4 linked regions of the Homo sapiens genome follow. The protein of the gene in region 1 interacts with the protein of each later gene in a pairwise test. Each region holds a gene or a part of one and is shown in the gene's direction. Other genes may lie near its edges.

Region 1 (4,762 bases):
GGGTTCAAGCTGGCCAGGTTCTGCCATTTCCTGGCCTGGCGCCTGACCTCTGAGCGGTGAGGGTTAGTGAGGTGTCTGGGAGGACTGGCAATTCGCGGGCTTTATTGGCATCTTATTCGACTAAGGCTACCCATTTCTCTTCCTTCGTGCACCAATTGCTCTGATTTTAACATGTAAAGGTCCAACTGCCTGGCCTCCTGGGTGCCTGCCCAGCTCACAGGGCTCTATTTTGGGACAGTTGAACCCCTCAGGGTGCTGCAGTCCTGCCTGCCTCTCTCACCTCCCATCTGGACATTATTTTAATGTAAAGGCATGGCTGAGACACAGAAATCCCCTTGAAATGTATCATTGCGGTCCTCATTGACTCCCATTGTGTGCCTTAATGGTGGGCCCAGTGGGTGGGGGCTGGGAGGGGTGGAGCAGGTGCATGGGGCAGCGGTGCCCAGCACCTGTTCCAGTCACAGCTGCTGGCCCACTGCATGGCAGGCCCCTTTAATCCGGGGATATCGCATGTACAGTGCCCCCCTCGGCGCCCTTTGTCCCCGCCGGCCTGGTGCCGATTTCACACTTGCCAGGAGTACCATGAAGGCGTCTGGGGGGCGAGGGATCCAAGGAGTGGGGGTCTGTGCCTCCTGCGTGTGCACACAGCCCCCGCCCCCAGCCCATCATGTCCTAGAATGTCTCCTTCCCCTTTTGTTTGGGTTCAGGTCTCATCACACTTTGGGCACTTACTGTACAGGAGGGTAGTGCTCAGGACTTCACCAACAGCCCTGGGAAGGGAAGGGAGGTGCTGTCCTAACTCTGGTCTTACAAATGGACTCCAGCCCCTTTTCCAGATCTCCAGAGTCAGCCCTTAGTTCACAAGGGTGAACTTACCCTTCTCATTCACATGAAGACTTAGAATGCAATCAACAAACCCTTCAGGCGTGGCGTGTGGAGGCTGCTGAGTAATGGCAGAGTGGAGTAGTGCTCAGGCACCCCTCCCCCAATCCTCTATGTCCCCCACCCTTTGGAGTGGCGAGTTTCCATTTCTGCCCCATGAGACTGAGTCCAGCTCTCAGGCGCTCCATAAGTCCCTATTGAATGCATGGGTCCCATTGGAGCCATCCTCTGGACTCTCTCCTACCCTGGTAGCTCAGTGTGGCACCCTAGGCACCCAGGAGGTGATGGAATGAATTCACTCTCAGCTCTTAAATTCCATCCAGCGCTGGGATTTCACAGGCGGGCCCTGACCTTGCGGGCATATCAGACTGGGCGTGAGGGGATTGGAGAATTGCATGTTTTTTAAAAAGACTATTCAGTATTATGGAATAGTGTCTAGCACTTAGTAGGAGCTCAGTAGATTAAAAAAAAAATTATAGACAGGGTCTTGCTTTATCGCCTAGGCTTGTCTCAAACTCCTGGCTTCAAGCAATCCTGCCTCACTCGGCCTCCCAGAGTGATGGGATTACAAGCGTGAGCCACCACACCCAGCCTCAATAGATTTTTGTTTAATGGGTTACTGTTATGACCTTTTATTTGGAAAATGCTGCATCCCCCAGAAAAAAACAAATCAACATTATTGGTGTTTTTGGAACTATATAGCTTTTTGGTTGGAGCAGGGATTGTTATGAGGCATGAGTGAGGGGGCAGACTCCTCTGAGGCCTCTTTAATTTTTAAAACAGACTTATTTATTCTCTAAGGGCTTGTTGAGGATTTACTGGGCACCCAGCTCCATGTGCAAGACTTTTCCCAACACAGCCTTGGCCAGGCAGATGGTGTGTCAGGGCCACAGGTTTCCGTAGCCTCTTGGGTGATAGAAAGGGGCCCAGGCCCTGGGCTGGGGCTCAGAAGGGACTCAAAGGAGGCCCTTGCCCTTATGGGACTCAGCCTGATTGGAGAACAGACAAGGAGATTTGGGATTACAGCGCAGGAGGTGGGGTGGTGAGGAAAGCAGGCTGCTGGCCGGGCCCCAGGAGTGGCCTAACCAGCTTGGAGGTGGGGGTGGGGAAGCCTCTTAAGGCTGACTCTGGCTTTGGCCCCCAACAGAGTAAATCAAGGAATGACTCCAGGACTGATGGTAAGGACACCAGTCACGTCCTCCCTTGACTGAAGGCAGTAAGGGCAGTAGGTGAAATCAGAGGCTTTGGGGTCCTGCCAGGGGAACCTGAACATGCTACTTCTGGGCCTCAGTTTCACTGTCTCTGAAATGAGACCACAGTAGGATCAAGTGACAGTAGGATGAATCAGTAAAGGTGTTGAGTCATTGTTGACCACTTCGCACGTCCCTGCGGGATGTGGATGAGTACCCTACCTTCTGTCACTTATCAACCCCTATGAGTGGGGGGTGAATAGCCCCATTTTACAGGTGGGAAAATGGAGGCTCAGAGAAGCCAGACAACTTGCTCAGAGTTGCACAGTGGGAAGCAGCAGAGCTCCGTCAGGTCCCGGCCTTTGGACCCTGGCTGTGTGTTTGACGGAGGCCTGGCTTTCCTGGGATCATGGGATTCTTTCAGGGTTTGGGGTATGCGGGGAGGGATTCCCATCACTGCCAGCCGTTGTCCCACGGCTCACTCGGCCTTTCTGGCGTTCTCTCCCCAGGCGAGAAGCCCTTCTCCTGTCCCCACTGCAGCCGTGCCTTCGCTGACCGCTCCAACCTGCGGGCCCACCTCCAGACCCACTCAGATGTCAAGAAGTACCAGTGCCAGGCGTGTGCTCGGACCTTCTCCCGAATGTCCCTGCTCCACAAGCACCAAGAGTCCGGCTGCTCAGGATGTCCCCGCTGACCCTCGAGGCTCCCTCTTCCTCTCCATACCTGCCCCTGCCTGACAGCCTTCCCCAGCTCCAGCAGGAAGGACCCCACATCCTTCTCACTGCCATGGAATTCCCTCCTGAGTGCCCCACTTCTGGCCACATCAGCCCCACAGGACTTTGATGAAGACCATTTTCTGGTTCTGTGTCCTCTGCCTGGGCTCTGGAAGAGGCCTTCCCATGGCCATTTCTGTGGAGGGAGGGCAGCTGGCCCCCAGCCCTGGGGGATTCCTGAGCTGGCCTGTCTGCGTGGGTTTTTGTATCCAGAGCTGTTTGGATACAGCTGCTTTGAGCTACAGGACAAAGGCTGACAGACTCACTGGGAAGCTCCCACCCCACTCAGGGGACCCCACTCCCCTCACACACACCCCCCCACAAGGAACCCTCAGGCCACCCTCCACGAGGTGTGACTAACTATGCAATAATCCACCCCCAGGTGCAGCCCCAGGGCCTGCGGAGGCGGTGGCAGACTAGAGTCTGAGATGCCCCGAGCCCAGGCAGCTATTTCAGCCTCCTGTTTGGTGGGGTGGCACCTGTTTCCCGGGCAATTTAACAATGTCTGAAAAGGGACTGTGAGTAATGGCTGTCACTTGTCGGGGGCCCAAGTGGGGTGCTCTGGTCTGACCGATGTGTCTCCCAGAACTATTCTGGGGGCCCGACAGGTGGGCCTGGGAGGAAGATGTTTACATTTTTAAAGGTACACTGGTATTTATATTTCAAACATTTTGTATCAAGGAAACGTTTTGTATAGTTATATGTACAGTTTATTGATATTCAATAAAGCAGTTAATTTATATATTAAAAAGTCTTTGGTGTCATAGAGGAGTGGGTATTTTGAAAGGTCTTTGGTAAGGGAGGAGGGGACAGGAATTCCTGAAGCTTAGATATTTCTGACACAGCCTTAAATCTTGTCCTTGGAAACATCATAGGGCTTTGGAGTCCTGGGTGTCACTGTCAGGGACCTTATGAGACTGGGTTTTCCCGTTGGCCTGGGTGTCCTGTCTGCTGCTGTTTGGGTGAGCCAGCGGCATCCATACGAGCTCTTCACTATACACTGTGGCTTTTTACTTTCTCGTTCTTGAATTTTGAAGTTGATCTGGCCCACGGAGTGCAAAGCTGGCTTCCTGGGTCTTATCAACTAGACAGGCTGCAAAGCTCTGCCCCAGCACTGCAGGTCTTTTGGGGTGGGATTGTCCGCTTCCCCCAGATGCGAGTGGAATGCGACCAAGGAGACAGAGGATGTCCTTCCTGTTTCCAAGGGCTCCAGGCCCCCTTGGGCCTCCTTGTCAGTCCCACACCTCCGTCTTGCTGCTGGGTACCAAATGGCCTTTGATGCGAGGAAATTGGCTGGCTGGAGCCAGTAGGGTGAGAAGCCAGGCCAAAGGGTAGGGGTCACTCAGCTTCCTGCTCCGAGGACGGCGGGACGGTCAGCATGCGTCTTGGGCTAGGGTAATTCATTCCCCGCCAGCCGATGGTGGTGACCTCACCACTGGGGGCCTCTTGGGGCCAGGAGAAAATGAGTGTCCTTTTTGAACACAAAAGGTGCTGGAGGTGCCAGTTTCCTGTGAGGAGCTGAGGCGTCCCAGAGCTTCGGAGCCCCAGAGTCAGGCTGGGGGTGGGGGGAGCTTCATGTTCCAAAGGAGAGATGATTCTTTCTTCTAAACAGGAAATGGTGACCCGCAGGCCGGGAGCAGCCCTTAATGACTTGCAGCTTTCCTCCCAAAAGGAAAAAAAAAAACGTTCTCTAACAATCGCCAAATTGTGGCCTGCCTCCCTGAAGGGAAGTTAGGGAGTTGGGGGGATGGGGGTTGGGCATCCATGAGCTGAAGGCCTACTGTGTCCTGGGTCCCTGCGGGTCCCTCTAGGTCGTCTCCATCCACCCACAGTAGGTGCTGAATGAATGATTTCATGACTTCACATAATCCCTGGGGGTCGGGCCTCCGGAAAATGAGGCACAGAGGTGGGCTTGCC
Region 2 (8,355 bases), on another chromosome or scaffold:
TGGATATATACCCAGAAGTGAAGTTGGTAGATCATATAGTAGTTCTGTTTTTAATTTTTTGAGGAATCCCCATACTGTTTTCCATAATGGTTGCACCATATTACAGTTCCACCAGTGGTGCACAAGGGTGCAGTTTCTCCACATTTTCACCAACACTTGTTATTTTCTGTTTTTGGATAGTAGCCATCCTGATTGGTTTGAAATGATACCTTATTTGTTTTGATATCCATATCTCTGATGACTAGTGCCATTAACCATCTTTTCATATAATTGTTGGCCATCTGTATATTGCCTTGAATATGTCTATTTCTGTCCTTCGCTCACTTTTTGATTGGGTTGACTATTTTTGTTGTTGAATTGTAGGAGTTCTTTGTATATTCTGGATATTAATTCCCTATCAGATCTGTGACTTTCAAATATTTTCTCCCATTTCATAGGTCAATTTTTCACTCTGTTGATTTTGTCATTTTATGCACAAAAATTGTAAATTTGATGTAGTCTATTTTTGCTTTTTTTTTTTTTTTTTTACTGTGCTTTTCGTGTATCCCTGAAGTCACTCTCAAATGCAATGTCATGAGGCTTTTCCTCTGTTTTTTCTTCTAGGAGTTTTATGGTTTGGGGTCTTAAGTTTATGGCCATTTTGAGTTAATTTTTTTAGGTGGTGTAAGATACATAACATCCTTTTGCATGTAGATATCCAGTTTCCCCAGCATCATTTATTGAAGAGACTGTCTTTTCATTGAGTGGTCCTGCACCCTTGTTGAAGATCATGTGACCCTATTCCTGAGGGTTTATTTCTGGGCTCTCTCTTCTGTTCTGTTGGTTTGTATGTCTCATCTTTATGCCAGTACCACATAGTTTTCATTATTGTAGCTGATATGGCTTGGATCTATGTTCCTGCCCAAATCTCATTTCCAGTTGTAATCCCCAATGTTGAAATGGGGCCTGGTTGGAGGTGACTGGATCATGGGGGCAGTTTCTCATGAATGGTTTAGTATCATCCCCCTTGGTACTGTCTTTGCCATAATAGGTGAGTTCTCATGAGATCTGGTCGTTTAAAAGTGTGTGGCACCTCCCCCACCCTCTCTCTTGCTCCTGCTCCTGCCATGTGAAATGCCTCACTCCCTCTTTGCTTTCCACCATGATTGTAAGTTTCCTGAGGCTTTCCCTGAAGCCAAGCTGATGCCAGCATCATGCTTCCTGTACTGCCTGTGGAACTGTGAGCCAATTAAACTTTTCTTTATAAATTACCCAGTCTCAGGTATTTCTTTATAGCAGTGCAAAAACAGAACAATACATTAGCTTTGTAATATATTTTGAAGTAAGGAAGTGTGAGTCCTCCAACTTTTTTCTTTTTCAAAATTGTTTTGGCTATTCAGGGTCACTTGAGCTTCCTTATAAATTTTAGCTTAATTTTTTCTATCTCCACAAAAAACATGATTGGGATTTTGATAGGGATTGCATTGAATCTATATAAATTACCTGGGCTGTTATTCATATCTTAATATTTTATGTCTTTCAATCCATGGACATGGAATGTCTATTTATGTCTTAATTTATTTTAGCAATATTTGTAGTTTTTAGTGTACAAGTCTTTCACCATCTTGGTTAGGTGTACGCCTACATATTAGGTTGGTGCAAAAGTAATAGTGGTTTTTGCCATTAAAAGTACTGGCAAAAGCCGCAGTTGCTTTTGCACCAACATAGTATCTTAAGTCTTTCACCATCTTGGTTGAGTTTATTCCTAAGTATCTTAAACTTTTTTTTCTGTACATGTTCAGAGAAACTTCTTTAGTCATAAACTATAAAAATGATCCCTGAAAGTATAATTTTGATGCTATTTTAAGTAGAATTGTTTCCTTAATTTCCTTTTGGGATTTTTATCATTAATGTATAGAAATGCAACTGATTTTCATGTTGATTTTATATCCTGAAACTTTGTTGACTTTATTCTAATAGGTCTTTTTGTGTGGACTCTTCAGGGTTTTCTACATACAAGATCATGTCATCTGTGAAGAGATATAATTTTACATCTTCCTTTACAATTTGGATGTCTTTTATTATTCTTCTTGCCTAATTGCTCTGTGGGCATCTTCTTGTTCTTTATCTTAGAGAAAAAGCTTTCAGTTTTTTGAGTATGATGTTAGCTGTGGGCATTTCTTATATGGTGTATGTTAACTGAGGCAGTTTCCTGCTACTCCTAGTTTGTTGAATGTTTTTATTATGAAAGGGTATTGAATTTTGTTAAATGCTTTTTCTGCAACTATTGAGATGATTACGTGCTTTTTTTCTCTCATTCTGTGTATTATGCTGATTGATGATGAATAATTCTTGCCTTCCAGTTATAAAGCCCATTTGGTCATGGCGTACAATCCCTTTAATATGTGTTTTTTTTTTTTTTGAGGCGGAGTTTCGCTCTTGTTGCCCAGGCTGGAGTGCAATGGCGCGATCTCGGCTCACTGCATTCTCCACCTTCCGGGTTCAAGCGATTCTTCTGCCTCAGCCTCCTTGTAGCTGAGATTACAGGCGTGCGCCACCATGCCTGGGTAATTTTGTATTTTTAGTAGAGACGGGGTTTCTCTATGTTGGTCAGGCTGGTCTCGAACTCCTAACCTCAGGTGATCCACCCCCAACCTCGGCCTCCCGAAGTGCTGGGATTACAGGCATGAGCCACCACGCCCGGCCTAATGTGTTGTTGAATTCAGTTTGCTAGTATTTTGTAGTTTCCTCCTGGTTGCACCTCATCCTCACTATGTTGGATATGGGGAAGGGCAGGGATGAGTGCACAGAATGCCCCAAATTTTATTACCCCTTTCACTGGAATGCCTTCTTGGTTTTATGGCCTGGGTGCTGTAGTTTCTTAACTGTTCTCTAGAGTTCTCACAGAAGTAGTTCTGTTCCATATATTGTTTTATTTCTGAGGTGTATAACTGGACTTAAGTATAGATTTGGAGCCATAATATACATGGTAATTAAAGCTCATGAAGAGAATGAAAATATGTAGAATGAGAAGGAGGCCTCATATAGACCCTCAAGAATACCAACATTTAAGAGCTGGATTAAAGAAAAATTAGAAGGAACATCCAAAAATGGGATAAAACCAAACCAGGAAAAGTTTGTATCATAAAATCCAAGCAAAGAGTGCTCAAAGGAGTAAGCAAAAATAACACATATATTTTGGGAACTGTTGTAAGGACTTTTATATGTATTCTTAAAAATTAATCCTTTCAAGAATCCTATGTAAATTTTGTACTATTTTAATCCTCCTTTTATGAGATGAAAGAAGTGAAGCAGAGAAATCATGCAGCTAGTAATATATAAAAATGTTCATTATAGCATTATTTGTAATATCATAAAATCAGAAATTACCTAAAATCTATCAGTTGGGGGTTTAGTTAAATTGTGGTTTATGAAATGTAAAGAAGCCATTAAAAGAAAAAGGTTGGTCAATATGTATTGACAGGATTCCATAATATACTGTTGAGTGAAACACATTAGTTTCAATGTGTGGGTAATACTTTTTTAAAAAAAAATTTGTTTTGTTTGTGTATGTTGGCCAGTATGTGCATGGAAAGTGTCTGGAGGGATATACATCAGATTCATAGTAGAAATTTCTGGGAATTGAGCAGCACTTTTTCATTTTAATTGATTTACCCTTATTGTGATTTTTTTAGTATAGCATAAAAACATGTTTAAGATTTAGAGGATTCATTTGAGTTAGAAAATCTGAGAAAATTAAGTGGGTATGTATATTCTGTTATACAAAGACAAAGTGGTCAGTTTTACTAAGGCAAGATTTAGCCATGGGGAAGGATTTCATCTTCTTGAGATCAGACTCAGTATTTTGAGGAATACAATTCAGATTGCAATGGTTGAGGAATGAATAGGAGATGTAGAAATAATAAAGGTGCTAAATGCTATTACTTTCTAACTGCATGTCAAACATATTTAAAAATATTTAAATTGTAGGATAATCGAGTTCACATTGGACCAAAAATGGAAATTCGGGTCGTTACGTTAGGATTGGATGGTGCTGGAAAAACTACTATCTTGTTTAAGTTAAAACAGGATGAATTCATGCAGCCCATTCCAACAATTGGTAAGTATGAATATTGGTTTTTACCTTAATAGACAAACCCTAGCTTACAGCCAAGTTCTTGGGGTCTTATTTGATACTGATCTGTCATGGTGGTGGGCTCTTTTCTGGCTCTAAGATATCAGCATCTCAGAGAAAAAATGCAAGATTGTATGACTATGGGATTGAAATGTGGATGGGGATAAAAAGAAGAAACAGAGTATTGGTGGGACAGTTGGAAGGAATAGAGGATTGGTGATCCTGGCTGAGGGTGTGGGGTGGGGGGTAGTTGTGGAACAGAGCTGGAAGGTACATGGATCCCAAGGTCCTAAGGACCTTGGTGGAGGTTTAGAGGGCTAGGAGCTGTTACAGGTATACATTCACCACGTAGGAGTAGGAATGGGGTTGATTAGGCTTCAGTAGATATTGCTGCATGTAGATAATTTGATAAGTCACAGTTATAAACTGGGGGTTGTCTGTGTTTGATATGTCATTCATTGTAAATACAAATATAGTATAAAAGTAACTTTTTTTTTAAAACAGGTTTTAACGTGGAAACTGTAGAATATAAAAATCTAAAATTCACTATTTGGGATGTAGGTGGAAAACACAAATTAAGACCATTGTGGAAACATTATTACCTCAATACTCAAGGTGAGAGTTAAAAATGACATTTAATTTTTCACATTTTTAGGATGACAGTTTTCAGTGTACTGATTTAACTAGCAAAGCTGATACTTATGATTAAGTCGTTGACTGTATACTTAAGTACCTGTGGCCAGTTTCTTAACTTGTAAAAAATGAAAGTAGAAAGATTAGGATATATACTTTTAGTTTATTCCTGATATACCATTATTACAGAATAAAAACCATACGTAGCTTAGATATGTAGTCAGTTAAGAGTACTCTTGCTTCTCTTAACAGAGAGTGTATATTACCAGTATTATATGGGTGTGACTGCTGGTAGCGTAGTGGTATAGAGTTGAATTTATGTTGTATGATTCTGCTGAATTCAGTTAAACTCAACATTTATCCCATTATAATCTCACTATAGCCCCACTCCCACATTTCTTTCACAAATAGTTATTACCTGCAGAAGAACTTACAGTAGCTTGCTTTTGACCAAACCGTATTATATCATATCTATACTCTACATAGGTTTTAGTCACATTTGGGTCTTACTCTACACTTCTGCCTCATAGACCCCAACATAATGCTTACGCTCATGCCGCTTATTCTGTATGTTATTCTGCTTTCCACCAAGATGAGAGACTGAATAATTATTTTTACTTTGGGATTTTTGATATTATTATGAGCCATAATTAATAGAAAAAATGTATTTTTTTTTTGAGACAGAATCTTGCTTTGTTGCCCAGGCAGGAGTACAGTGGCATGATTGCATTTCATGGTCACCTCTGTCTCCTGGGCTCAAGCAATCTTCCCACCTTAACTTCCCAAGTAGTTAGGACTAGGTATATGCCACCACATTCAGCTAATTTTTTTTTTTTTTTTTTTTTGAGATCGAGTCTTGCTCTGTCGCCCAGGATGGAGTGCAGTGGTGCGATCTCGGCTCACTGCAAGCTCCGCCTCCCAGGTTCACGCCATTCTCCTGCCTCAGCCTCCTGAGTAGCTGGGACTACAGGTGCCCACCACCATGCCTGGCTAATTTTTTTGTATTTTTAGTAGAGACGGGGTTTCACCATGTTAGCCAGGATGGTCTCCATCTCCTGACCTCGTGATCCGCCCGTCTTGGCCTCCCAAAGTGCTGGGATTAGAGGCACGAGCCACCGCGCCCGGCCACATTCAGCTAATTTTTAATTTTTTTTTAATAGAGATAAGGTCTCACTATATTGCCCAGGGGTCTCGAACTCCTGGGCTCAAGTGATCCTCTCACCTCAGCCTCCCAAAGTGCTGGGATTATAGGTGTGAGCCACTGTGCCCTACAAAAATGAAATTTTGAATATGAGGAATGGTTGAAAGTCTGGAGATAGTTAACTTAGACATAATACTTTGGAGAAATAAAAATGGTGATGGTTTTTATCTTTTAGTCTTTTATTCAAAGACTAAATATTAGAAAAGTAGTATTCGAAGAACAAGTAGCATCCATAGGTAGAGGATCATGAGGCATATTTTGAAATTCGTTATGTAAAAAGTTATTTGATATACAGACCAATTTGCATTTGATAGAGCAAGTGTTGTAAATCCTTTCCTAGATGGGGAAACTAAACCTGAGAAGTTATGTAAACTACTTGAAATCATACTGTTAATTATTTGTAGGTGCCCCTGCCATACTAGGCACCCTCTGTGTGAAAATAATGATGGTAGACAAACTCTAACCATAACATAATAATGATATCATTAAATATTTGGTTCATTTACTGAACTTTAGCAAGTGACTATTTTTGTTTTTTTTATTTTTTTTTGGGTAGCTGTTGTGTTTGTTGTAGATAGCAGTCATAGAGACAGAATTAGTGAAGCACACAGCGAACTTGCAAAGTTGTTAACGGAAAAAGAACTCCGAGATGCTCTGCTCCTGATTTTTGCTAACAAACAGGTAATGCATTTTTATATTGGAATATTTATTTTAGTAGTTTTGTGCATGTCAAAAGGCAACTGGAAATATTTCAGAAGACAATCAGTTCAATAGATATTTATAGTTTCTTCTGTGTATTTTGAGTACAATCTATGTGAAAATGCTGTGCTGGGTACCTGGGAGTATACAAAATAGAAATAAGGTAGTTAATGCTCACCAGAAACTCCTGTGTATGCATATGAACACATAAGAGATCTGAATACGAAGAAGACTGATAAGTAACTTAAGTAACACAGTGTTACGGGAATTAGGAAAGTAGTTCTAAATGTGGCATGTTGTAAGATTGTAAAATGTAGAATTTGAGTTGAAATTATGCATGAGGCTGAGTCAGTATGTGAAAGGAAGAACATTATAGACAGAGAAGATAATAGCATGAATGTTTTTAGTTTAGGGAACATCAAGCAGATCTATATGTCAGGTCTCAGTAGAGGATGAAGAGAATTTAGAATAACAGACAAGGCCATGCTGTAAAGGTCTGACAGTGCTAGACTGAGAAATTTAGGTTTTATTCTATGAGCAAGGAGGAGTCATCAAAATGTTGGATTAGTGGGTAATAAGATCATATCAGTGTTTCAATACTATAATTCTAGGGGTAGAATGAATCAGGGCAAAGGACTGGAGACAGGGAGATGCAGTAAATTGCTTAAATAATTCAAGTGAGCATTAACAAGAGCCTGAATTAGAGGAATAGAAAGGCGGAGGCAGATGGAAAAGACTTTGAGGCAGAACTGGTGACTGAATGGGGAGGATGAAGGACTGGGAGTAGCTGAAGATTCCTAGACCTTGAGCCTTTCTAGGAGGATGAGATGCTTTTAAGTAGAGGCAGAAGGAGAGTAGAAGTGGAGCAGAGGAGATGTCATGGGAGGGGAAGAGTAGGATGAAGAATAAAGAATTTTCCCCTTAATAAAAAAGGCAAACTATTAAGAACTGGTATATTTAAGACATGCAAATAAGTCAGTGAAATACCATTTTCTGCTCATCAGATAGTTAAAGATGAAAGTGTTTTATAATCCTCAGACTTATATACAACTGTTACTATTATTATTTTGAGACTGAGTCTTGCTCTGTCACCAGGCTGGAGTGCAGTGGCACAACCTCTGCTCACTGCAACCTCCCCCTCCTAGGTTCAAGCGATTCTTCTGCCTCAGCCTCCCAAGTAGCTGGGATTACAGGTGCTTGCTACCACACCCGGCTAACTTTTGTATTTTTAGTAGATTCAGGGTTTCATCGTGTTGGTCAGGCTGGTCTCAAACTCCTGACCTCAAGTGATCTGCCCGCCTCATCCTCCCAAAGTGCTGGGATTACAGGTGTGAGTCACTGCGCCTGGTCAACACTGTTCGTGGGTTATTAAACTGAGACATTTTCTTGGAGGACAATTTGGCAATACTCATCAAAGTCCCTTACCCTGCAATTCTACCTTTATATATCTGGTAGACAGATATCCAAAGGTTATCCTACAGATAATTTTGCAAATATACATAAATGTATGTCAACTTTTGTGTATGTATGTTTATGTATGTATGTGTATATATATGGATTTATAATAGCACATAAGCATAAAACTTCAATCTGAACATTCAGTATAGGACTGGTTAAATTATGTTGCAGCCACACAATGGAAGGGAATTCTGATATTAAAAATAATGCAGACCATCTGTGCTGATAATGGAAAGATACTCATCTTCAA
Region 3 (9,290 bases), on another chromosome or scaffold:
GGGGAAAGGGCAAAGGGGTAGGATTTGCGTCAGGAATAAAAACTTTCTTCCTCCTTTGTTCTAGTGTGCTCTCATGGCGACTGGCAAAGAAGAAGCACCCCTCTGCACAGAAATAAAATTGCTTTGCTGAGAAATCCTTTGTTTGAGTGCTCGTCTCCCTTAAGATTCTGAGCTTTATTTCCAACAAGGAAGGTGATGGAGGTACCTAGATTGAAGAAATGAATGGTCCCTCTAGGAAACAAGCAAGGCTTTTTGCTTTTGCAAACCTCTCTTCTTTAAAGGTTACCCCTCTCCCAGACTCAGTGCTTTCTTCCTCTGCCATCTCAGCAGACAGTTCACAAGCTGCCTCTTTTTGTTTATGCAGAGCAGCTTCAGAACTACAAATTAAACTCACCCAGACACAATCAATCTATTCTTCTCAAAGCCTCCCATTCTATGCTCCCACAGATTGCTCCACTCACCTTCAGTCCAAAGCAGAGGAGTCTTGAATCAGGGGAGAAGAGTGAAGGCAGGGCAGGAGCCGGTGTAAACCAGATTCACTCACCAAGCCAGAGGGCTGGTCTCCACAAATGAGTTTCCCCACAGGAGCTGAGTGAGAAACGAAAGTTAAATTCTCAGAAGTGAAAGAAAACAAAGGAAGCTGAACAAGAACTTACATAACAATAAACCCTGGGGAAAGTAATGCTACATTATGTTCTAGCATCTGCTGTACTGGCAAGGCACTCAGTCACTACTTCCTTATTCTTACTGTGGTTTACTCAAGCAAGAATATTTGAATAAAAAGAATGTGAATTACAGTTATACAGCTTGCCTGAATACTTAGAATTCCAATGCAGTCCTATAATTATTAGTCGAATTTATCTTATATTTAAGACCTAAGCCAGGAAAATAAAGATCCAGAGACTTGGGACCTAGCTTCTTGAAATGCAGTCTGACGAGGAAGATACTCAGTTATAAAGCTCTACAAATTTGGGCTGACAAGATGAGTATTAGCAGCTGACATTGTGAATGGTAAAAAAATTATTTTTATAAATAAAAGGATCTTTAGTGTGAGCCCATTGAAAAAAATGTTCTCAAAATGTCATTAAATCTTAAGAGTCCATCAATTAATTATCACTTCCTGCTCCTAATCCAGACAGACCAGATGAGGATGGATTCCAGAGAGTAATAGAGGTAAAACTGTGTCAGTGTCATGTTACCCAGCCACTGAGGCAGGTGAGAACATGGAAGTTAACAGATGATGCTGTTTAATTATAATCATTCATTGAGTTACTCTCATGCCTTCATAATTTTTCCACTTTTCCCTGCTTCTCTAAGAAAAGTTTGGTCATTTTTACACAATCAATTAAAAAGCAGCACTGAAACATGTTATACGTCATGCACATACTTCTGTACCCTGTTGTCTATTGTATTCTTGTTTAACTGCATGTGCCAGATAATGCCATCAAAAACTGATGGAGGCCTGTGGTGTCTCATGCCTGTAATCCCAGCACTCTGGGAGGCCCAGGTGGGTGGATCACTTGAGTCCAGGACTTCAACACCAGCCTGGGCAACATGGTGAAATCCCATCTCTAAGAAAAATTAAAAAAAAAAAAATAGCTGGGTGTGGTGATGTGCACCTGTAGTCCCAGCTACTCAGGAAACTGAGATGGGAGGATGGCTTGAGCCCAGGAGGTGGAGGTTGCATTGAGCCAAGATTGCGTCATTGCACCATAGCACTGCAGCCTGGGTGACATAGTAAGACCCTGTCTCTACAAAAAACAAACAAACAAACACCACACAACACATACACACACACACCCAAAAAAAAAGAAAAAAAAAGGCAACTCATGGAGCTTCCATAACATGGATCCCTGACTGACACTATGGAGCATGGCCATCTTCATACTTTAATCAATGATACACATGTAGGATGACTGAGAAATCAATGTTTATTATTTCAATAATAGATATTTTGGTATTATTTGTTGCTCACAGAATAATAAGCTAATCCTGGCTATAAATTCTTTCCTACTCACTTATATCTATGAGGACCTTATTCAATCAGCTGAAAGCCAGAATAGAAGAAAAAACTGACTTCTCCCCGAGAAGAGGGAATATTACCAGCAGGCAAACCTCAGGCGTGAGCTATAACGTTGACTCCTTCTTGGATCCAGAGCCTCTTGGCCTACCTTGCAGACTTTGGATTTGCCAGTCTCCAGAATCACCTGAGACATTTCTCAAGTTTCTTTCCAAATAAATTCATAGTTTAGTGGTTCTATTGCTATGATGAACCTTGACTAAGACAGGCGTGAAATTTTCTTATTTCTTCTTGAAGATAAATAAGCAAGAGATGTAATTTTAGGTATATTCCATGTTTGAATAGAATATCTTGTTGACATTTGTAGGGGAGTGAGCGCTCAGTGAGTGAATGTGTTTTTTCTGGAGTGCACAGAGTGGAGTCCGAGTGTCAACCACAATGGACAAAGTGAATGAACTCATTTATCCAGAGACCTGTTCTCTGTCCATTATTTCTTCCCTTCTCAGCACTTCCATAGATCTCATAGCCATCCTTTTATTCTCGTCTGGCTTTGAACATCTGAAGTGAACTTTCATCCTGGTCTGATTTATCTCATGAAGTATTAATTGCAGCTGAGAGAAAACAGTAGTAATATTAGGTCCTGACAAGATACCAGAAAACGTGGGCCAATAGAAAAACTGAATGCACCACACACAGTTTATCACCAGAGTAGAGCATGTTGGCAGGCTCCATATTCTAACCTATGTTCTAAATTGTAGAAAAAATATATTATTGTTGGAGCTCTGTGTTTTCTCTGTAAACCCTTTTTTTTTTTTTTTTTTTTGAGACGGAGTCTCGCTCTGTCGCCCAGGCCGGACTGCGGACTGCAGTGGTGCGATCTCGGCTCACTGCAAGCTCCGCTTCCCGGGTTCACGCCATTCTCCTGCCTCAGCCTCCCGAGTAGCTGGGACTACAGGCGCCCGCCACCGCGCCTGGCTAATTTTTTGTATTTTTAGTAGAGACGGGGTTTCACCTTGTTAGCCAGGATGGTCTCAATCTCCTGACCTCATGATCCACCCACCTTGGCCTCCCAAAGTGCTGGGATTACAGGCGTGAGCCACCGCGCCCAGCCTGTAAACCTTATATATCCTGCTTTCCTGCTTGAAAAGGAATCAAATGAAATATCTCTACCTTTGGGTCCATGGATATTTAACATTTTTCTCTTCAAGAAAAAGAGCAAAATAAGAGTAAATATGGTTAGAGTCTGAATAATACTTAGGAAGAAAACAGAGAGGATATTTTAAAAAATCGTTTAAAATTTGTTTAAAAATTTACATAATTACTTTTTTTTTTTTTTTTTTTTTTTTTTTTTTTTTTTTTTTTTGAGACAGAGTCTCACTCTATTGCCCAGGCTGGAGTGCAGTGGCATGATCTCGGCTCACTTCAACCTCCACCTCCCGGGTTCACGCAATTCTCCTTCCTCACCCTCCTGAGTAGCTGGGATTACAGGCATCTGCCATTACACCTGGCTAATTTTTGTATTTTTCGTAGAGATGAGGTTTCACCATGTTGGTCAGGCTGGTCTCAAATTCCTGACCTCAAGTGATCCACCCGCCTTGGTCTCCCGAAGTGCGAGGATTACAGGTGTGAGCCACTGCAAATGTAATCATTACATAATTATTACTAATGCCACATAATTATTACTAAATAACAATTAGTAATATTAATTATAATTGTAACTATTAATAATTGTAATTATTAATAATACTAATTATTATAATTATTACTATAATTATTACTGCCACATAATTATTACTAATGCCAGAAGAATATTTGAATTAAACTAGGTGACACAGCAGTTATCTTTACAGCAAGAATAGAACAGAAATGTGACATCAAGATATTCAATTAAAATTAGATTAATAGCTATATATCTTCATATCTATTTAAATATTACTCCTTATATACACCATATTCTAGTAAATCTGAGACAATAAAGAACAAAATGCAAAAGCCCCCTACCTGATTTCATGAAACAGAAAGCTGCGGGGGTACAGTGTGGAGGGGGTATGAGGTTACTGATGATGGAATTAAGTGATAACAGGCTGCCCACTGCAGTGCTCCCCATTGCCTTCTCCTGAGGCATTTTCATTTTCAAACTAAATACTCCTCTCTACCAATGATCCTAGTTCCAGTGTGGACTTCCTGAGATGTTCCAGTAAGGGAAAGCTTAGAAGGGAGGCTATGGTACATGGACCACAGTTCAGCCTTTTGGACCAGTTTTGCATAGTAACCAGAAGAGAAGAGAGAGGAAGGCCTGGCCCTGCTCAGGGATGCAATAGATACTTTGGAAAAGACAACAGCGGGAAGTTGGAGAGTTCTTTGAAAGTGAATAGTTGAAAGAAATAATGTGGTATTTCTTTATCGCTCTCCAGATAAACTTCTTTTTTTTTTTTTTTTTTTTTTTTTTTTTGAGACGGAGTCTCACTCTGTCGCCCAGGCTGGAGTGCAGTGGCGCGATCTCTGCTCACTGCAAGCTCCGCCTCCCGGGTTCACGCCATTTTGCTGCCTCAGCCTCCGGAATAGCTGGGACCACAGGCACCCGCCACCATGCCCGGCTAATTTTTTATTTTATTTTATTTTATTTTATTTTATTAGAGATGGGTTTTCACCGTGTTAGCCAGGATGGTCTCGATCTCCTGACGTTGTGATCCGCCCGCCTCAGCCTCCCAAAGTGCTGGCATTACAGGCGTGAGCCACCGCGCCCGGCCCTCTCCAGATAAATTTCTAGCATCCTGTCCTCTCTGGGTTTCGGAGTCTTAATAATATGACATCTCTCCTACCTGCAGCTCCTTTTCTGTTCATAGGTCCTATAAGATTTTTAAGTCCAGACCAGAAATCTACTGCAATTCTCTAAAAATCATTAACTTTGTTCTTCCTTCTCTTTGGGCCATATCTGTCACCCAGAAGCAGAACTCAGCTGTGAGATCAGGAGCAAGAGGAGCACATTGGAAGAATTTCGAAAAAGGGCACCTTTTCTAATTTTTAATACTTGGCTGGGTTAATCTGAAACTATGTCAGAAGAAGTGGCATGATAACAAGATCCTGAGACTCAAGAGAAAAGGGAGATTGAGTGGGAATGCCTCTAGTTCCCACGGCTCCTCCTGTGAACAGCACAGCTACACGGCCCGGCTGATTCATTCAGAGGGCGGGACTCACCAGGCCCTACGTGGAGAAATGCCATTGGCCCATAGTTTATCTTTCACTTTCCTGCCCTGAGTGTGAGCAAGAATTTCCTGCGGTTCCTCTAGGAAAATTCCTTTGTGCAGATCAGGCCCGTGGATTGGTGAGTGAATCCTAACCACGTCTTCCCTGGCCTGTCTTCACTCTTCTCCCCAGAATCACCACTTCTGCACTGGTGTCTGAAGGTGTATTGAGTGATTTTGTGGAGGGCAGAAGTAGGAAGTCTTTGGGACAAAACTGTATTTACCTTGGTGAGTTTAACTTATCTGAAAAGCTGTGCGGGGGTGGGGAAAAGACACAGTTCACAGACTTCTTGCTGCCAGAGCTGACTGAGGGGAACAGAGCCGCCTGGCGGGCAGGCAGATTTGAAAGAAGGGAGAGCTTTAAAGTGAAGGGCTTTGTTTCCCGAAGGCTGGTTATTTTTCCATGCTGACTCTCTCCCCATCCCCTCCCTACTCTATACTTTTTAATTGAACTTTGCTGTAGAGAGCCAGAATTCTCTCTTTCAGTGTCTTCTCCCAACAACAAGGGCAAAGACAGGGGCCTTGGAATCCTAATGATTTAATGCCTATTAGTTTACTAATGTAGTGTTTCTGCATAACTCTACAGGTCAGTTCTCATCACCTTGGCCTGGCTCTGTGACATCAGCCTTCATGGTGTGACAGCTGTCCAGTTCTGTAGTCCTGTCATTGTCACTGTAAATGGAGTTCTTTCCCTAGTTCATATTGGTTACAAAGATAATGGGAAAAAAGGCAAGCAGGTTTTATTTCTTGCTAGGAGTGGAGAGTAAGAGAGCTCCTTCTCTAAAGCCCCCTCCCCCAAAACAGTGGAAAGCATTGGCTTTAAAAGAACTGAGTACGGGGAGAGAAAGGAGTGTTAGCCTATAGGGTGGAACTCCAGTTGTGCCACCTCTGTTTATAAACACATGTCTTCATACTGTGTCCGGAATTGGTGGGTTCTTGGTCTCACTGACTTCAAGAATGAAGCCGCGGACGCTTGCAGTGAGTGTTACAGTTCTTAAAGGCGGCATGTCCGGAGTTTCTTCCTTCTGATGTTCGGATGTGTTCAGAGTTTCTTCTTTCTGGTGGGTTCGTGGTCTCGCTGGCTCAGGAGGGAAGCTGCAGACCTTCGCGGTGAGTGTTACAGCTCATAAAGGCAGTGTGGACCCAAAGAGTGAGCAGTATTAAGATTTATTGCAAAGAGGAAAATAACAAAGCGTCCATAGTGTGGAAGGGGACCAGCGCAGGTTGCCACTGCTGGCTCAGGCAGCCTGCTTTTATTCTCTTATCTGGCCCCACCCACATCCTCCTGATTGGTCCATTTTACAGAGAGCCGAGTGGTCTGTTTTGACAGGGCACTGATTGGTGCATTTACAATCCCTGAGCTAGACACAAAAGTTCTCCAGTCCCCACTAGATTAGCTAGATACAGAGTGTAGACACAAAGATTCTCCACATCCCCACCAGAGTAGCTAGATACAGAGTGTCGATTGGTGCATTCACAAACCCCGAGCTAGACACAGGGTGCTGATTGGTGTGTTTACAAACCTTGAGCTAGATACAGAGTGCCGATTGGTGTATTTACAATCCCTTCGCTAGACATAAAGTTTCTCCAAGTCCCCACCAGAGTAGCTAGATATAGAGTGTCGATTGGTGCATTCACAAACCCTGAGCTAGACACAGGGTGCTGATTGGTGCATTTACAATCCCTTAGCTAAACATAAAGGTTCTGCAAGTCCCCACCAGACTCAGGAACCCCACTGGCTTCACGCAGTGGATCCTGCACCGGGCCGCAGGTGGAGCTGCCTGCCAGTCCTGTGCCATGCCACGCACCTGCACTCCTCAGCCCTTGGGTGGTGATGGGACTGGGCGCCGTGGAGCAGGGGGCGGTGCTCGTCAGGGACGCTCGCGCAGCACAGGAGCCCAAGGGGTCGTGGGGAGGCTCAGGCATGGTGGGCTGCAGGTCCTGAGCTCTGCCCCGCGGGGAGGCAGCTAAGGCCCGGCGAGAAATTGAGCACAGCAGCTGCTGGCCCAGGTGCTAAGCCGCTCACTGCCCGGGGCAGCGGGGCCGGCCGGCCACTCCGAGTGCGGGGCCCACCAAGCCCACGCCCACCCGGAACTCCAGCTGGCCCACAAGCGCGGCGCGCAGCCCCGGTTCCCGCTCGCCCCTCTCCCTCCACACCTCCCTGCAAGCTGAGGGAGCCAGCTCCGGCCTTGGCCAGCCCAGAAAGGGGCTCCCACAGTGCAGCGGTGGGCTGAAGAGCTCCTCAAGTGCCGCCAAAGTGGGAGCCCAGGCAGAGGAGGCGCCAAGAGCGAGTGAGGGCTGCAAGGACTGCCAGCATGCTGTCACCTCTCAATACAACCCAGGCACACAAAATGGTGGAGATTTTCTTGTTTGGTGTCGTGTGGGGGAGGGGGTAACTTAACACTCTAGTGATATGTTAATGATCTAAAGGCAATTAGGGATTGTCAGTTCCAGTATATACGCTGGTTCGGGGGTCTAATTTCCCCCTTGGATCTGGTCAGGGGTCAAGATCTGGACCATGCTGGGCAGTCTGGCTTCTTCTTAAGCAACTTTGTCTATACATAAAGGGAATAAAGAAAAACGTTAAGAAAAATAACTTTCCCAGTCATTTCATCAGGGCTTCCCTGGTGACAGCATCTGTTTGCCTCTACTAGGGCACCAAGTCCAGACTCAGGGAACTACTGGATTTTCTTAAAAATCATTAACCTTGCTCCTCCCTCTCCGTGGGCCGTATCTGCCCCCCAAAAGCAGAGCTTAGGTGAGATACGAAGAGCAGGAGAAGCATGTGGAAAGAATACCCAAGTAGCTGGGATTACAGGCACCTGTCACCAAGCTCAGCTCATTTTGTATTTTTAGTAGAGACAGAATTTCACCATGTTGGCCAGGCTGGTCTTGAACTCCCAGCCTCAGGTGATCCGCCTGCCTTGGCCTCCCAAAGTACTAGGATTACAAGCGTGAGCCACCACACCCGTCTGGTTAAGTTAAATATTAAAAGCTGAAGCCGGGCACGGTGGCTCACGCCTGTAATCCCAGCACTTTAGGAGGCCGAGGCAGGTGGATCACAAGGTCAGGAGTTGGAGACCAGACTGGCCAATATGGTGAAACCCCATCTGTACCAAAAATACAAAAATTAGCCGGGTGTGGTGGTGCGTGCCTGTGGTCCCAGCTGCTCGGGAGGCTGGGGCAGAGGAGTCACTGGAACCTGGGAGGCAGAGGTTGTGGTGAGCCGAGATTGTGCCATTGCACTCCAGCCTGGGCGACAGAGCAAGACTCCGTCTCAAAAAAGAAAAAAAAATATTAAAAGCTGATAGAGCCAGTGCCCTTATACAAAGGCTGGAATGTAACAGAAGCCCACTGAGAGTTTTGCCCAGGCCTTTCCTGGGCCTTGAAGCATGACAAGATAACGAAGGAATCGATTAGGACCTGTTTAGGATTAAACAAGTTTTATGGGGGTCTGAAGGAACTCCCAGGCCTCCACAAACAAGTTTATTGAGGGTCTGAAGGAACTCCGCAAACCTTAATGATTTAGCAGGAGAGACAAGATAAGGGTAATCACCCCAGCACCCGGACCCATCTAGATTAGGTAAATTTACTGAGGCACCAGAGGAAGGTCTTAAAACTCAGACCTTAGTTATAGATTTGAAGAAGTTAATCACTTATGTTTTTAGATGAATAATGCACACCTATACGTAGACGTATAGCTTAGAAGGTATATAAGCTCTGGAAAACTTTGTAATTTTGAGTTGGTCTGGAGATATTTTCTAGGCCTTCTCCCTGTACGCAGAAATAAAAATTCGCTTCTTTCCCAGTAAATCTGCATCTCGTTATTGGGCCGCAAGAAGCAGCAGCCGACCCTCCGTTTGTTCCGGGAACAGAATCATCTCATCTAATATTTTGAGACTTCTCTCTCAAGACTGATATCCACTGCCTCTGTGCTTCTAGTTTTCAAGTATCCAACATGTGTGGTCCACTGAGTATTTCTCTATCATCACCCTCTACACCATGTCTACACCTTTAGGCTCCAA
Region 4 (8,741 bases), on another chromosome or scaffold:
AAAAAAATAAGTAAATTTTTTTAATGAAATGATATTTGAGCACTCTGGAGCACCATACAAATATAGGACAGACTGAAGGAATGTACCTGGCTTGAGTTAACATTTATTGAAATTTTATATTGCAAAAATAGTACATATTCACTGTTTTGAAACTAGAAAGAATTGATAGGCAAGGAGGGCTGTCTACAAAGCACTCCATAGATCCACCATACTGAGACAATGCTTAATGCTTTGATGGATTTATTGTATACTATCTATGCATATGCATGTATTATATACATACATGTGCATGGTTAAATAGAAATATTTCTCCTTGGTGTTAATCCATTTATTGTTATGCAGTAAATCCCCAAAGAGCACATTTGCTTTGCCCAAGGGAGTCTTTTGCTACATACTGCTGTACATAATGAAAACTAAAAAATTGGCTAACTTTTCAGCCTTGTGACCTTGTGGTGATTCAAATAGAGGCTTCATCAAAGGCAGATTCAGAAATGAACTTGGTATGTGGGTGGTTATGCTTGGCATTATTGTTTGTAATAGTATGATAGGGATGACTTCAGTGTCCACCAACAGGGAACTGGTTAAGTAAACTGTGGTACATCCAAACGATGAATACTGTGCGGTTGTAAAGAAGAATGACAAAGACCTCTGTACTCATGTAGAAGAACTCACATATATTGTGTGTGTTTTAAGAGGAACAAGGAATGGTATAGTATGTATGGTATGCTACTTTTTGTGTTGAGAGAGAAGAGTAGAATAAGAATATACGTGTGTATTTGCAAACATAAATTCTGAAATGATATATAAGAAACCAATTAAAAGTGTTTGGCTGTAGAAGGAGAATAAGACTGTGAATGGGATTTGGCCACATACTTTTATAGGTAGTTATATTTAAAAATTTTCTGAACCATGTGTTTGTACACATGACCTTTTTAAAAATAAGTGAATGAAGGAATGAAGTAGGATTATGAGAAAGAGATAAGAACAAATGATCTAAGGGGCTGCCCATCTTTTTAGTACCCAGTGAATATTAATATATAACAATAGCAGCAAAAATTGGAAGAGTAGCCCCAGGAGGGTAGGGAGTCAGCCTTTCCTTTGTCTTTTCCTCAATTTCATATATTAAACAAAATAATCTGAGAACGATAAAACAATTTGAAATAAAAAATGTCTCCAGATCTCTTAAAAGGAAGCTGGGGCAGCTTTCTGTAGCGCACTTCCCAAAAATGGGCTGATTTACCTCAAGAGGCAGGGATTCTAGCCTACATGGGATACATACAGGAGAAAACAAAATCAGAAAAAGAAAAGATATTTAAATATAAATAAATGAAAATAACAATTCTCCCTCATTATAAAGGAAATCATTCTTTTTGTAATAATTTGGATGACAAATATTAAGAAAAATCTTTAATTTGCCACTCAAAACATTGTGGTTTGTTGCTTTTTATACGTTTTTATGCACATAAACCTTTTAAAAAGTAGAATCGTAGTATGTAGTCTTTTGTCACTTACTATATTTTGGGCATATTTCTGTGGCAGTAAATATATCCTGGCATCATCATTTTTAATAGCTGGATGTATATTAAGTTAATCACTGCCACCCCAGAGGTGAATTTTCTTATACACACATTTTAATGGGCTCGAGCAAACATTTTTGGACTGAATTCATAGAAGTAGAATTTCTGGAGGAAAATAATTTTTAGGGTTTTTAATAGAAATTTTCAAATCATTCTCCAGGAAAAGTGACTCAGGTTATACTCCCACCAACAAGGACAGAGCTCCAGGTTCCCCTTTCCATTTGTCATCTTTCCTGCCTTTATACAGAAAATCTCATTGTTTTCATGACATTTCTTTGATTTCTTGTGCTTTTGAATCTTTGTATATGCCACTGGCCATTTTTATTCTTGTGAGAAGTGCCAGTTTCTCCATTGCCCATTTTCGGTTGAAAATCATTTGTTTTTTTTTCTCAGTAATTTTAAAGATTTCTTTATAGTCTAAGGATACAAGCCTTTTATCTGTCATTGAGGTGACAAAACTTTCTCCCAGTAAGTAATTTGTCATTTCATTTTTTCTTCTTTTCTTTTTCCTTTCCTTTCCCTTTCTTTCTTTTCCTTGTTTCTTTCTTTCTTCTTCTTCCTTCCTTGCTTTCCTTTTCTTTCTTGCTTTCCATTCTTACTTTCTTTTCTTTTCCCTCCCTCCCTCCCTCTCTTTCTTTCCTCTTTCTTTTTCTTTCTCTCTTTTTCTTTCTTCTTTCCCTCTCTCTCTTTCTTCCTTTCCTTTCTTTCTCTTTATTCCCTCCCTCCCTCCTTCTTCCCTTTTTTTTCTTTCTTTCTTTCACTAGCCAAGCTCCAAAGTCACATTTCACTTAATTTTTATCCTGCCAAATTTGAAAGCCTTTTAACTTCGTGATTTTAGTGTAAACAGGAGCAGGAGAAAATGTAATTATCTAAGTCTCGCTGTGTCACCCAGACTGGAGTGCAGTGCCATAATCATAGCTACTGCAGCCTTGAACTCCTCGCCTCAAGCAATTTTCCCACCTCAGCCTGCCAAGTAGCTAGGACTACAGCTGTGTGCCACCACACCCAGCTAATGTTCAAAAATTTTTGTGGAGATGTGAATTCTTTATGCTGCCCAGGCTAGTCTTGAACTCCTGACTTCAAGTAATCCTCCCACCTCGGCTTGCCAAAGTGCTGGGATTACAGGTGTCAGCTCCTGCTCCTGACTGAGAGTTTAGTTTTGTTTGCTAGTGGTGTTCTTGGTATCTTTTCATATTTGAGGTTTTGGGCTAGTGCTGAAGTATTACACTCACCATTCGAGGTCTACAGGACTTTTGGTTTAATATTGAACAGATGGAACTGTTTAGTTCTGCATCTTTGCAGGTATACAGAATGTGCCTACCAGGAATCTGCTTTATATCCATTGAAAGCAAGAAATAATACAGTAAAACTTTGCCTGGCTAGAGGCTTTGAAAGAATGGCGTATTCTGGTTTAATTCTATTACTTTGGAAGTATAAAGGTGAAAAAAATTCAAAACTTAAATTTCCTGTTGAATGCAATTTGAAAATATAGCCAATGATTCCACTTTTCTTCTCTAGTAAGGTTGGACATTCTGATCTACTTGGTGTTTTATTATAGAACTGCTAGTGTGCGTGAGTCTTACATTGTGAAGATACTTTTTTAAAACTTGAGATGTAAGAGGATGTAAACGGTTTTGTAGGAGATCAGGCTGGATGAGAACGGACACTTGTAAACATACTTTTTAGACTAAATCTCTGATTGCCGCTTGTTTTTCTTATGGAACTCATACAAATAAAACACATTGGATGGAGGGTGCGAGTAGGAAGGAGATTCTTGTCTTTTAATTGCATGTCATTGTTTCATAACAAGGCAGAACATATGGTAACCCTGGCTTTGGACCTACAGAAGGAAACACATTTTTCTACCTGCTGTATGCCAGAGGTTCTTGAACACTTGGAGGGATTACTGCAGCACAGATTGCTGAACCCTACTCCAGAGTTTCTGATTCACCAGGTCCAGGGTGGGGCCTGAGAATTTGCACTTATAAAAAGGTCTCAGGTGCTGCTGGTGCTGCTAGTCCATAGACTACATTTTGAGAACCACTCTTGTCTATTAAGTGTAAATTGTAGAACTCTAGAAAAAAGCTTAGTTCAGTCTGGGATAAGAAGCACACAGGTTATGGAGAAAAATCATGAAAGATTCAACCCTTGATCCCAGCCTAGTGTGGATTTCAGGTAACAAGCAGTACACAGTGACATAACACAATTCTTGGTTTTCATGATTGCAAGTCATAGCCAGGTATCAAGTGAGAAATTCAGTTTCATTTGCAAGGCCTAGAGTGGCCTGGTGATTCTAGAAAAATGGGCCTTGTATTTGTTTTAAACCAGTAAAGAGCTTTAAGTGCTTATTAAATTGTAAGTTTTGTGTTCCTACTTATTTTGTATCTTATTTTATTTTATTTTATTTCTTTTGAGATGGAGTCTTGCTCTGTCACCCAGGCTGGAGTGCAGTGGCATGAGCTTGGCTCACTGCAACCTCCATCTCCTGGGTTCAAGTGATTCTCCTGCCTCAGCCTCCCAAATAGCTGGGATTACAAGCACCCACCACCACACCTGGTTAGTTTTTGTATTTTTAGTAGAGACAGGGTTTCTTCATGTTGGCCAGGCTGGTCTCGAACTCCTGACCTCAGGTCATCCACCCACCTCGGCCTCCCAAAGTGATGGCATTACAGGGGTGAGCCACCGCACCTGGCCCAAAAGCTTTGTGTTTTTAAAGATATTAGACATGTTTCTTGTTTTTAAAAGAAATCTTAACAATAATGTAGGAGAATAAGACAAACATTTTTCCAAAAAAGAGAAATTGTTGTGATTATTCTCTGTTATTGGAATGTCGGATACTATAGTCAGCTTCATTAATCATCAAGAATGCTATGGATTTTCCATTTTTATAGGGTCTATATCTCAGTTAAGGTAATACTTGTAATTCTTGTGCTCCATTTGAAGATGAAAAATATAGGCCAAAATCATAGACTTTGCATAGAAGCTGCATAATGAAGACAGCTCTGGAGGAACACATAGATACACACAGACACACATATATAAAGTATATACACATATATTTTTTAAAGTTTATTTTTAACAGTTTTAAAGCTTTTAAAGCAAAAGCCAGCCCCTCCCCTCTCCCAGAGTGGGCGGCCTCTCCCCTCTCTCTGAGTGGGCGGGGACAGCGGTTGCATGGGCAGCTTTCCTTATGATGCTACAGGTCCCTCTGGACATGCTGCGCCTGGCCACGCCTCCTTTCCCTTTCATCTTTCTCACTGACCAATGGGCTTGGAACATTAAGGCCACGCCCCTATTCTGCGTTCCATTGGTGCCCTGGTTACGCCACCTGTGGCTCAGTTGCACAGCTGCCTGGTAGGTGACTGGAGGCATTGAGCAGTGCTCACTGGTATTTCGCTGATGTGGCCCCAACCCCGCCTCCCTCCCCACCCCGCGATGTCAGAAAAAACACAACAGGGGAAATTGGCCGCAGCCAAGAAAAAGGTAAAACACACCAGGTCATGGCCCCCAACCCAGCCACAGATCCCCTCCGATGACAAGACCGGTGCCAGAGTCCATACCACTCCTGAGGCATACCAGATGGGGCCCCCCAACCCCAGCCCCTCTGGGCTCCCCCAACCAAAGCCTAGTCAGTCAGCCCCACCCCTTCAGCAAGCAGCCCAGTCCCTGCCCTTGCCAATCACCCCAGGGTGACTTTGGGCAGGTGACTCCTGGGGCTCCCTGCTCCATAATCAGCCCTCACCTCCTGCCACCCCAAGCCCAACCTCCCTGGGCTCTTTGGGCTTGCGTCTCCCAGGACCTGGGTCCCCCAGCCCCAGGCCCTGCCCTCACCAGTCATCCCTGGGTGGCTTTGGGCTGGTGACTCCCGGGGCTCCCTACTGCAGACTCTGCCCTCCCCTCCTGCTGCCCCAAGCTCGACCTCCCTAGGCTTCTTGGGCTGGCGTCTCTGAGGACCTGGGTCGAAACCGTGTGTTTCCCTCCCCCATCGTGGAGCAGCGACTCGGGCATCGCGCTGATGTGGTCCCCTCCCCTGGGAGGAGTGGAATGCAATGATGTCACAGTGCCCCTAGGAACTGTCATTACTGCTGCAAGACCGGCCTTTGATCTTACAACCCAGTCCCCTAAGTTTTCTCACCCCATTTCTGGTTCCTCTGGTTGCAGCACAAATTTCCAGCTGGAAGGGGAGTGGAGACTATGGGACCTAGGAGCAAGAGGTTTCAGGCTGCCTTACTCCCTTAACATAGACATTGACAGTGGGAAAAGCCTACACTTCCCCTGTGAGCTCAAAATGTTCACAGTATCTCTGGGTGGCAATGGGAGAATGGGTTTGGTTTGGTTTTTTCCCAGGCTTCTACTTTCCAGAGAGACTTTAACATTTTTTTCTGAGTTCTCCACGGTTCTGGGACCAGACTGCCCTTCAGTCAGTGGCCTCTGAAGTGAGATTTGCTCATCTTCTGTGGAATAGATCTTGGGAAACTGAACTTGACAGCTTGAATCTTCCTCATATCGTCTCAACCTGGGGTACTTTGAGTGCCACAGGATAAATGCGGGACATCTTTCTGAAGCATCATTTTCCCTTGATTCTCTTGAGAAAATGCATTAATGTACTTAGGGATGACAGACACATAGGTTTCCAAGCGTATACCAGACTTCGCTCTGAAATGAGGCTTGGGTTGTCCTCTTTCTGATAAATTCCCAGATTTAATAGAAAAGCTGCCTTCTGCCATGAGGACACATTGATATGAAAGTGTGAGAGGTACTGGTACGCTTCTTCACGCTAGCAGACCTGTGAGGATGTATGACTCTAAACCACACGGCCTACAGTTCCTGCCTGCTTAATGTGTGCTTTTCTACCTCTGCCCCTGGTTTTGGTCCCTGGAAGCTGCTGATTCATGGCAAAACCCCAGAGCTTGGAGTCAGAGGACTGAGTTTAAGTTCCAGTATTGCCTTTTTTGATCTTTCTTTTTTTTTTTTTCTATCCATGATATCAATCCCTCTCAGTCACTAAGTGATTGTGACAACACCTTGTACAGTTGTTGGTGGCATTACATCAGATGGTATATAAGGGTATTTTGTCAAAACTGTAAAGGAGGATGTGGCTGTAGGGGCTGATCATTCTCATGAGTGTTACTGCTCTTCTTTCCCACAGTTAAAAGCATATTGGCAGAGGAAGAGCCCTGGCATTCCAGCAGGAGCTAACAGGAAAAAGAAAATCAATGGCAGTAGCCCTGACACATTCACTTCTGGTGGTTACCACTCACCTGGGGATGTGAGTCTCGGCGGGCCAGGCTCCTGGGGACAGGGAGCCCAAGGGGCAGTAGAGGGTAATTGTTAAGATTGTAGATGGACTGTTGGGTACTGGTTAAGAATTCTGGATTTGAATCCTGCCTCTCCGTCTGCTAAGAATTGATTAGGGATTGATTAGCATATGATTTAGGGCAAGTTGCTTGAGGTCTTTGGGCCTCTCTTTTCACATCTGTATAATAGAGGTGGTATTTTTTGACTTCCATTTGTGAAGTTTAAATGAGATTCGTTATTGTTGCTTTTATGTGAATCCTTAGTACATGGCCTGCTGCAAACACCCAGGACACCGAGGAAATGGTCGTTGCTGTTTGATTTTCCTCATCCCCAGTCTCAAGGGGAAGCCAGGCCAATGAGAAGAGCCACTTGCCATCAGGCTGTCCCTTTAGGAGTCACTGAAAGGGCCCCAGGGTGGGATGGTGGGGAGATAAGAACCACGAGAGAAGTTGGCACAAAGGAGTTATGGGAAAAAGGTTCCAAGATAGGCAGAAAAGAAGCTTTTGCCAGTTGATGGGGGAAGAAAGGAAGTCAGAGGGCTTAGACAGTGAGGGGGGACAGAACATCTCCATGTGCACTCTCATCTCTTGGAGTCAGCAACAGGTATCTACGGGGAGGGCCGTGCATCCTCTACTACCCTGCAGGATCTGGAGGTAAGAGGCCCTGGGCCGAGGTGCAGTGACCCTGCAGGCCAGCCCTCCAACCTCCTCCCACAGCAGGGGCTTGTTGCCCCTCTGCCAGCTGAGGCAGCCCACACACCCCCACCAGCCCTAATGATTATTCTCTCTACCCCTCCCCACAATCTTTCTCCAACTCCTTCTCTCTGCATGCACCTCAGAGCCAGTACCAAGAACTAGCAGTAGCCCTGGATTCAAGCTCCGCAATAATCAGTCAACTCACTGAAAACATCAATTCACTGGTAAGAGTCCAGTGGGGTCCCCTGATTACAGCTGGTCAATCCTGGACTCCAGTTTCCTCTTGGGGCCCTGAAGAAAGGGGCTAGGGGCCCCTGATGCCAAGGGCAAATGGGGAGCTGGGCACCCAGGTCTCACCTGGAGGGACCCCAGAGCACAGAACATGCAGCATGGCTCTTCTGCACTGCCCTCTTTGCTGACTCTCTCTTCTCCAGACACCCCTGCTCTAGTCCTTGCCACACATGCCCTGGGGTTGTCACCTCTCTGGGAAGCACTAGCCTGACTGGTTGTCAGAGGTCCATATTCCTGCCCTGCCTCAGTCCCTAATTTGCTTTTTGAGTCTGGACAAGCCATCTCTCCTCTTTATGCTCGTGTTTCTGGAGGAGGTAGAGAGTATCAAAGGTCTCGGTTAGCTCTGAAAGTCAGAGATTTAAAGGCCCCTAGAATGGAAAGCTCAGGGCGAAGGGCTCCTGTCTGTCCTTTGCTGTTTTATATCTCTGCTATGAAGAACTGTACCTGGCCTGTACATGCTCAGTAAATGTTTGTTGAATGAATGCACGTTTCTAAATCACAAACTGGCAGAAGGGGGGTGGGCCTTTCTCAAACTCTGTCTCTGGACGTTCACCAGCCCCTCCCTCCAGTACCCTTTTCCCCCTTTGCTTTGGGCAGGTTCGCACATCTAAGGAGGAGAAGAAGCATGAGATACATCTGGTACAGAAGCTTGGGAGGAGCTTGTTCAAACTCAAAAACCAGACGGGTAAGATGGGGCTGGCATGACCTGGCAGCTGGACTGGCATTAGAGGGCTGTGGGGGTGACTTAGAATGCCCCAGGGAGGTGGGTGGATGGAAGGGCTTTGAGGCAGAGGGAAAGAGGTCTGTGCCAGGGGAGGACAAGTCTTGTCATCTCCATGAGCCTCAGTGTCCCCATCAGTAAAGAGGGAGGAGTGCCCAT

What was found.
Region 2: the proteins of SNAI1 (region 1) and TRIM23 interact in binary tests that used the Homo sapiens proteins (3 or more experiments, as listed by UniProt).
Region 3: the proteins of SNAI1 (region 1) and TRIM5 interact in binary tests that used the Homo sapiens proteins (3 or more experiments, as listed by UniProt).
Region 4: the proteins of SNAI1 (region 1) and GOLGA6L9 interact in binary tests that used the Homo sapiens proteins (3 or more experiments, as listed by UniProt).

What each region holds. Positions count from the first base shown.
Region 1 is NC_000020.11:49,985,291-49,990,052, forward strand, and holds the end of SNAI1 (zinc finger protein SNAI1), read left to right. Parts: intron 1-2,581; coding exon 2,582-2,766; 3' UTR 2,767-3,596; downstream 3,597-4,762. UniProt on the Homo sapiens protein: Involved in induction of the epithelial to mesenchymal transition (EMT), formation and maintenance of embryonic mesoderm, growth arrest, survival and cell migration.
Region 2 is NC_000005.10:65,592,795-65,601,149, reverse strand, and holds part of TRIM23 (E3 ubiquitin-protein ligase TRIM23), read left to right. Parts: intron 1-3,969; coding exon 3,970-4,099; intron 4,100-4,618; coding exon 4,619-4,729; intron 4,730-6,504; coding exon 6,505-6,629; intron 6,630-8,355.
Region 3 is NC_000011.10:5,681,071-5,690,360, reverse strand, and holds the start of TRIM5 (tripartite motif-containing protein 5), read left to right. Parts: upstream 1-5,286; 5' UTR 5,287-5,493; intron 5,494-9,290.
Region 4 is NC_000015.10:82,425,104-82,433,844, forward strand, and holds the start of GOLGA6L9 (golgin subfamily A member 6-like protein 9), read left to right. Parts: upstream 1-4,712; 5' UTR 4,713-4,976; coding exon 4,977-5,060; intron 5,061-5,679; exon of another isoform or gene 5,680-5,791; intron 5,792-6,726; coding exon 6,727-6,846; exon of another isoform or gene 6,847-7,468; coding exon 7,469-7,528; exon of another isoform or gene 7,529-7,713; coding exon 7,714-7,794; intron 7,795-8,458; coding exon 8,459-8,546; intron 8,547-8,741.